2 separate regions of the Homo sapiens genome follow, and region 2 is linked to region 1. Evidence: fine-mapped expression QTL. A gene starts in region 1. The other region holds a variant in brackets. All regions are shown on one strand. Distances are between the middles of the regions.

Evidence for each region. PIP is the estimated chance that this variant, and not a neighbour inherited with it, causes the effect.
Region 2: its variant is the best candidate, but not a certain one, in a credible set for the expression of NSD2 in sun-exposed skin (GTEx, PIP 0.60).

Annotation. Positions count from the first base shown.
Region 1 is chr4:1,870,086-1,872,982 of GRCh38, forward strand. It overlaps NSD2 (nuclear receptor binding SET domain protein 2), which reads left to right and starts at 1,308. Exons shown (of 22, transcript NM_001042424.3): 1 at 1,308-1,457. RefSeq lists an enhancer at 237-738 and silencers at 472-731, 762-991, 1,042-1,741.
Region 2 is chr4:2,304,489-2,307,385 of GRCh38, forward strand. It overlaps ZFYVE28 (zinc finger FYVE-type containing 28), which reads right to left. Exons shown (of 13, transcript NM_020972.3): 8 at 1-1,048. Among named protein-coding and RNA genes, the nearest start is that of MXD4, 44 kb to the left of the region's middle. The variant T/C (reference allele first, on the strand shown) is at 1,583.

The DNA.
Region 1 (2,897 bases):
TTTTTTGGGGGGGCCACAACTCAACCCATACAGGGGCCCAGCACCTGTGAAGGGACAGCAGCGGAGGCGGCGCGGGAGAGGAAGAGGAGGTGAACTGTGGCCACTCCTTGGTGGCTGGAGGTGGGTCCGGGGAGGCAGGACCTGGGCTGAGGTGTCGTTCTATAGCCCGGGTAGCGCACTTTCACAAAGCTCTCCTTGACCAAACTCTCGCCAGGCTCCCCTGGGCCCGCTTCTCAGCGAGGGCTCAAGCTGGGCCTGTAAAGCTCGAGCAGACACTAAGGCTCAAGGCCGAAGGTGTTCCCGGCTCCCTGAACCTGCGTGACAGAAAACCCAAGGCCGCCGGCTCCGGCAGCACCTGGAGGCAGGAGCCGAACTTCCATGGGCGGCGGGCAGCAAATCACACCGGCTTCAACCGCCCGGCCCGCCCACTTTTTGCAGCGTCTGACTTCCCCGCTCGCCCGCGCCGCTTCCTCCTCCTCCCTGTGCCGCACGCAGTCGCCCGCGCCACCCCCTGAAGCCCGGCTCTACCGCAGCGGCGCTGGGGTAGCGCCCCTGGACCAGGCGTCCTCCCCTCGCGAGCGGTCCTCCCGCAGCCGCGCCCAGCTCCGGGTCGGACCCTCGCCCGGGGGACTCGTTCACGCCCTGCGGCCGTTAGGCGGGAAGAGCACGACGCCCTGCCCTGCCCCGTCGTGGCGTCTGACCCTCTCCGCCACGTCTGTTCTGAGGCTCCGGGCCCGCCACGGCGGGGCCTCTGCGGCGGTTTCCCCACCCGTCCCCGCACTGCCGCTCCGCGAGGCGGACGCCGCTAGCAGCCTCCCGCGGGCCCCAGGCCCCGCGCCCCTCTCACGGGACAGGAGCTTGGGGACCCGCGCGGGCGGGCCGCGCGCCCAACGCCAGCCTCCGCGGCCGCGCGCCCACGGCTCGGGGGCGCCGGCTCCGGACGGTGATTGGGCGCGGATCGTGACGTCACTGAGCGCGGCGCCCGCGGGCGCCGGGTCTGGGCCGGGTGCGCGCCGCCGAGTAGCGGGAGCAGGGCGCGCGCCCGGCGCTACTCTGAGGCGGCTCGCGGGGCCCGCGGCCCGGCCCTCCCGGCGCTGCCAGCCCCGCCCGCCCGCGCGGCCCCCACCCGCCGCGTGCCTGCCCGCCCCGCCCGTGCGCGGCCCCGGCGCGGATTTGAAAAGCCCGGTCCGCGGGCCCCGCGAGCGCGGCAGCCAATCAGCGGCGCGCACTTTTCCCGCGGCTTCTGCGAGGCGGCGGCGGCCCCGGCTGCGGCGGCGGCGGCGGGCGGGAGGCGCGGGGGCGGGGTCGGCGCCGCGCGCGAGAGCCTCGGCCTGGCCGCGCTGCGCCCGCCGCCGCCGCCGCCCCCTCCCCGCCTGGGCCCTACCGCCGCACGGCCCCGGCCCCCTCCCAGCCTGCCGCTCCGGAGAGCCGCCCGCCGAGGATGCGACGCACCGCAGGTCACTGGGGCGCCCGCCCAACAGTCGCGGGCCGCCAACCGCCGGGGCTGGGGCCGGGAGGCCGGGCTGTGGGAGGCCTGAGGGGCGGCGGGGAGGACCGCGGAGGCCTGAGGGGGCGGGAGCGCCGGGAGGAGTGGGGGCACTGAGGAGGCCTGAGGGGCCGGCTCAGGGGCTGGGGGACCGGGAGGCCGGGCGGCCTGAGAGGGTCGTGGGGACCGCGAGGACCGCGGAGGCCTGAGGGCCGGCGGGAGGACCGGGCGGACCGCGGAGGCCGGGACGAGTCCGGGCAGGGGAGGGGCGGCGGCCTGCGGGCGGCGGCGGCTAACGGGGCCGGGCGGGCGGGCGCGGCCATGTTGGGCCCGGCCGGGCCCTGCGGCTGCACCTGTGCCCGGCCCGGCCGAGGCGGCCGCCTTTGTTCCCGCGGCGCCGAGCGGGTCGGGCCGGCCTTTGTGCGGCGCCCCCGGTCCGGGGCGGCCGCGGTGGGAGGGGCAGGTTGGGGTCCCGGGGCCGGCGCCGGGGCCAGGGGTCGGGCCGAGGGTCGCTTTTTGTTTGCAGGCGGTGTCTGGCGTTGACACTCGCGGCGCCCGGGCGTTGGTCAGCGCGGACGCTCCCCCGGGAAGCCGGGCCGCGGTCCGGCCCTTGGCAGGTGGAGGCGGGGGTGAGCCGGGTGTGGGTACCCTGCTGGGGGGCTGCGCGCCCTCGGCGTCCGGGCCTCCGCCTGGGATGTTCCCCTCGCCCCAGGATGCAGATTGATAGTCCTTGAAGCCTCAGTGCATGAGATGGGACCTGGCGACTTAATGGCTGGTTTTGCTCCACTCACAGGAACCGTGGTTTAAAATCTCGGCGTTTAAAAAATGCTGGTCTTAAGTTTCGGTAGAAATAAAATGGATGAGGGTATTGTATAGGACCCATTGCAGCACGAATCTTTCTGTGCCCACGATGGGCTTTGACATTCAAGTGGAAACATAGTATCAAAACTGATGTGGTGACGTTAATCGTTTTTAGGTAGATAACGTGTATTTTGTGTGTGTGTGTGTGTGTGTGTGTGTGAGAGAGAGAGAGAGAGAGAGAGAGAGAGAGAGAGAGAGAGAGAGCGCGCAGACCCTGTGAAGACAAGACTAATTGGATAAAGTTCAGGCCTGGCTCAGGAGCAGCTCTTCAGTGCTACCCACCTGCTTCACAGACTTTCAAGCCTTGATTTTTAAATGAGTTAAACGCCAGCATCACGCATGGGTTATATTCACTCTATTTTGTGTATTTCAAATATCAACGTGGAAAATAACTTAGGAGCCATCCCATTTATGAACTTGGGACTTAAACTTTTTAATTTTCCCAAAATGTTTTAAGTGCCCTAGTTACGTATTTAAATGTGATGAGAACAACAATATTTTAAAGAGCAGAACGCCAACAACATAAAGCAAACAAGTTCTGTGAGCACAG
Region 2 (2,897 bases), 430 kb after region 1:
TGAGGGTGGGGGCGCCTCCTCCTGTCTCTCAGGGGCCCTGTCGCTGGCCTTGGCTAAGCCGGCAGCGTACGAGGCACCAATGACGCCTCCCGGGCTGCACTTCTCCCGCAGACGCTCCACCACGTCCTCCCTGCTGTCCCCGCAGCTCCCACAGCACACGCAGGAATGCAGAAGGCAGTTGGTGGCCCCAGTGCTAAGCTTGTGGGGGCCGCCATCCATCCCCTCGGCCACGGGCTCCGAGGCGGCCTCCTGGGTGGCGACCGCAGAGTCCAGGGAAGTGGGCGATTTGGGGTTGAAGATGACCGTGGCTGAGAGCTTCATGCCCCCTGTCCGGTGGGCGATCATCTCAGCCGTCTCTGCGTCATCCGCACCCACCTCCCAGCCGTCCAGGTGCAGCCGCGAGTCCAGGCAGCTGCAGGAGCTGGTGCCCGCGAGGCTGGCCCCATCTGTGCCCTCGGCCTCGAGATTGTTGTTGCTCAAGTCCTCCTCCTTTTCCGAGGCGGGCAAGCTGATCCCCGCCGCTCCGCCTGGCCCACCCTGCCCTTTCTCCTGGGGGTCGGCCCAGGTACTGCCTGCCCACCCAAATGGGCCAGCTGGGGACTCGGGCCTGGCCAGGGCTTCTGCCGTCCCCTCCACGTCATCCATGAAGAACACGCGCTCCTCCTCGTCACTGCCTGACCGCAGGCGCGGTCTACCTGGAGAGGCCTCCCCGCCTGGGCTGCCCTCCGCTCCTGGCCTGTGAGCTGGGGACTGGCAGGCAATGGGCGGTGAAAGCAAAGAGGACATCTCGTCCCCCGCCCTGTGGACCATGCGGCTGAGCTGCTCCAGCTCCTGGTCGTCGTACTGCATGGAGCAGGCCAGCTCTGCATCCGGGTCTTTGGCCTTAGCTGAGAGTGGCCCCTCAGGGGGGAGAGGGGCAGAGAGGGCAGGCGCCAGGGCAGCGGGTCCCTGCACGTCTGCGCGGATGGGGAACTCCACGTCTTGGGAAATGCAGAGGTTCCGTTCCAGCGTGTGCAGCTCCTCCTCCGTCAGCGTCTGCAGCAAATCCCTACGAATCAAGACAAAACCCAAGGGTGAGGGTCCCAAAAGCCACACCAGCCTCCTTGGCCAGGAGTGGACGCAGCACCCTGGAGTCTGCACCAGCAGAACAACAGCCAGGCACTGAATGCTTGCAACTGAATTCTCAAGGCACCAGCACGTCTCCTCCACCACGGAACAAGGCTCCGGTCTCGCCGGCCAGGACAACGGTGTTCAAGGTGGCCGGCTGGGATTCTAGTACAGTTTCTTTTTTAAAACAAGATTCTGGAAACTTTTGCTGAAAAGAAGAAAGCCCTAATTGTTAGGCATGTGTTAGCTGCATGAATAAAAACTCTAAGGAGTGAAAAAATACATGCTGGTTTACACATAAACCTTCATCCTTTCATTCCACAAATACCATTGGGCACTGGCTATGCAGCAGGAGCTGGGTACCAGGACACGAGGAAGAAGGCAGGCATGCTCCTGCCCTTGTGGACTTAGCCTGCAGTTGGGTGAGGCAGATGATAAACAAGCATTTATACAAACAATGACTGAACTACAATAA[T/C]GACAGCTGCAACCAAAGACAATGCAAGCCATGAAGGAGGGTGCAGCAGGGCACCTGGCTGAGGCCGGGAAGGCTTCCTGGAGGAAGAAGCATTGAGGCCGAGACCCAAAGGTGCAGTTAATTCAGTGATGCTGAGCAGGAAGCTCCTGGAGCAGGCTCCTACAGGCCGACTGTGGGCTGCTCTCTGCTGCGAGAAGCTCCGGGTGTGTCTGTGGTCTGAGTCCCACATGGGACATTCCAGCACAGCCATGGCTATTGTGAGGAAGTGCGCTTTGCAGAGCTGGGCAGAACTTTCATAAGCTGAATCCACCCATGTGAATAGCACCCAGATTTAGAAGTGAAACCCCAACCAGGCCCCCGGCACCCTGGCTCTCGCATGACACCATCCTGACTCCATAGGCCGAGGCACGCACCTGCTCTGCTTCTCTGAGGAAATGGGAATTCTCAGTCTACACTCTCTTGTGGCAGGATTTGTTTGCTGATGTTATATTTGTGTAGAATCTCCAGATAAAATATAGGACACCCAGTTAAATTTCAATTTCAGATAAACAACAAATAAGTACTTTTAAAATGTCATTAGAAATAGTTGTAAGTGTACTCCAAATGCTGCCCATTTGGGACATGCACTAAAAAGAGTTTTTTGTTTATCTGAAATTCTAACTGAACTGGGCTTTCTGCTGTTGTATTACTAGATCTGGCAACGCTATTTCGTAAGATTCACCCATCATAAAGCACGTTGCCATAGGTCATTCATTCTTGTGGCTGCACCGTCTTCCATGGGGTAAATATACGTAGTTCCTTTATCTGTTACACCCGACAGGTTTTGGCTGCTGTGACCCAGCATCTTCGTGTATCTCTCTTGAAGAACATACGAGGGCATTTCTGCTGAATGCACACATGGGGTGGGACTGCTGAGCCTGACAGAGGGGAGCAGCCGGGATCCAGGCACACCTGCCCACAGCTTGGCTGACAGCATGGCTTGCCCCAGGCCCTCGAGAGCACTACTGTCTTTAACTGAATCCTTCCTGGTGAGTGAGTAATAGTATCTTATCTTATTATGGCTTTCCATTGTTTTAGCCTGATGACCAATGAAGTCGGTCACAGTTTACTTATCAGCCCTTAGATTTTCTCTATGTAAAGTTCCTGTTCAAGCTTTTTGCCCATTACTAATTGGGTTGTCTGCCTTTTTCTTATTGATTGAGTTCTTTATATATTTTGGATTTGAGTTCTTTATTAGATATATTCTCCAACTCTTTGGCTTGCCTTTTCATTCTCTTAATGGTGCTTTTGAGGAAGTTTTAAATTTTAATAAAGT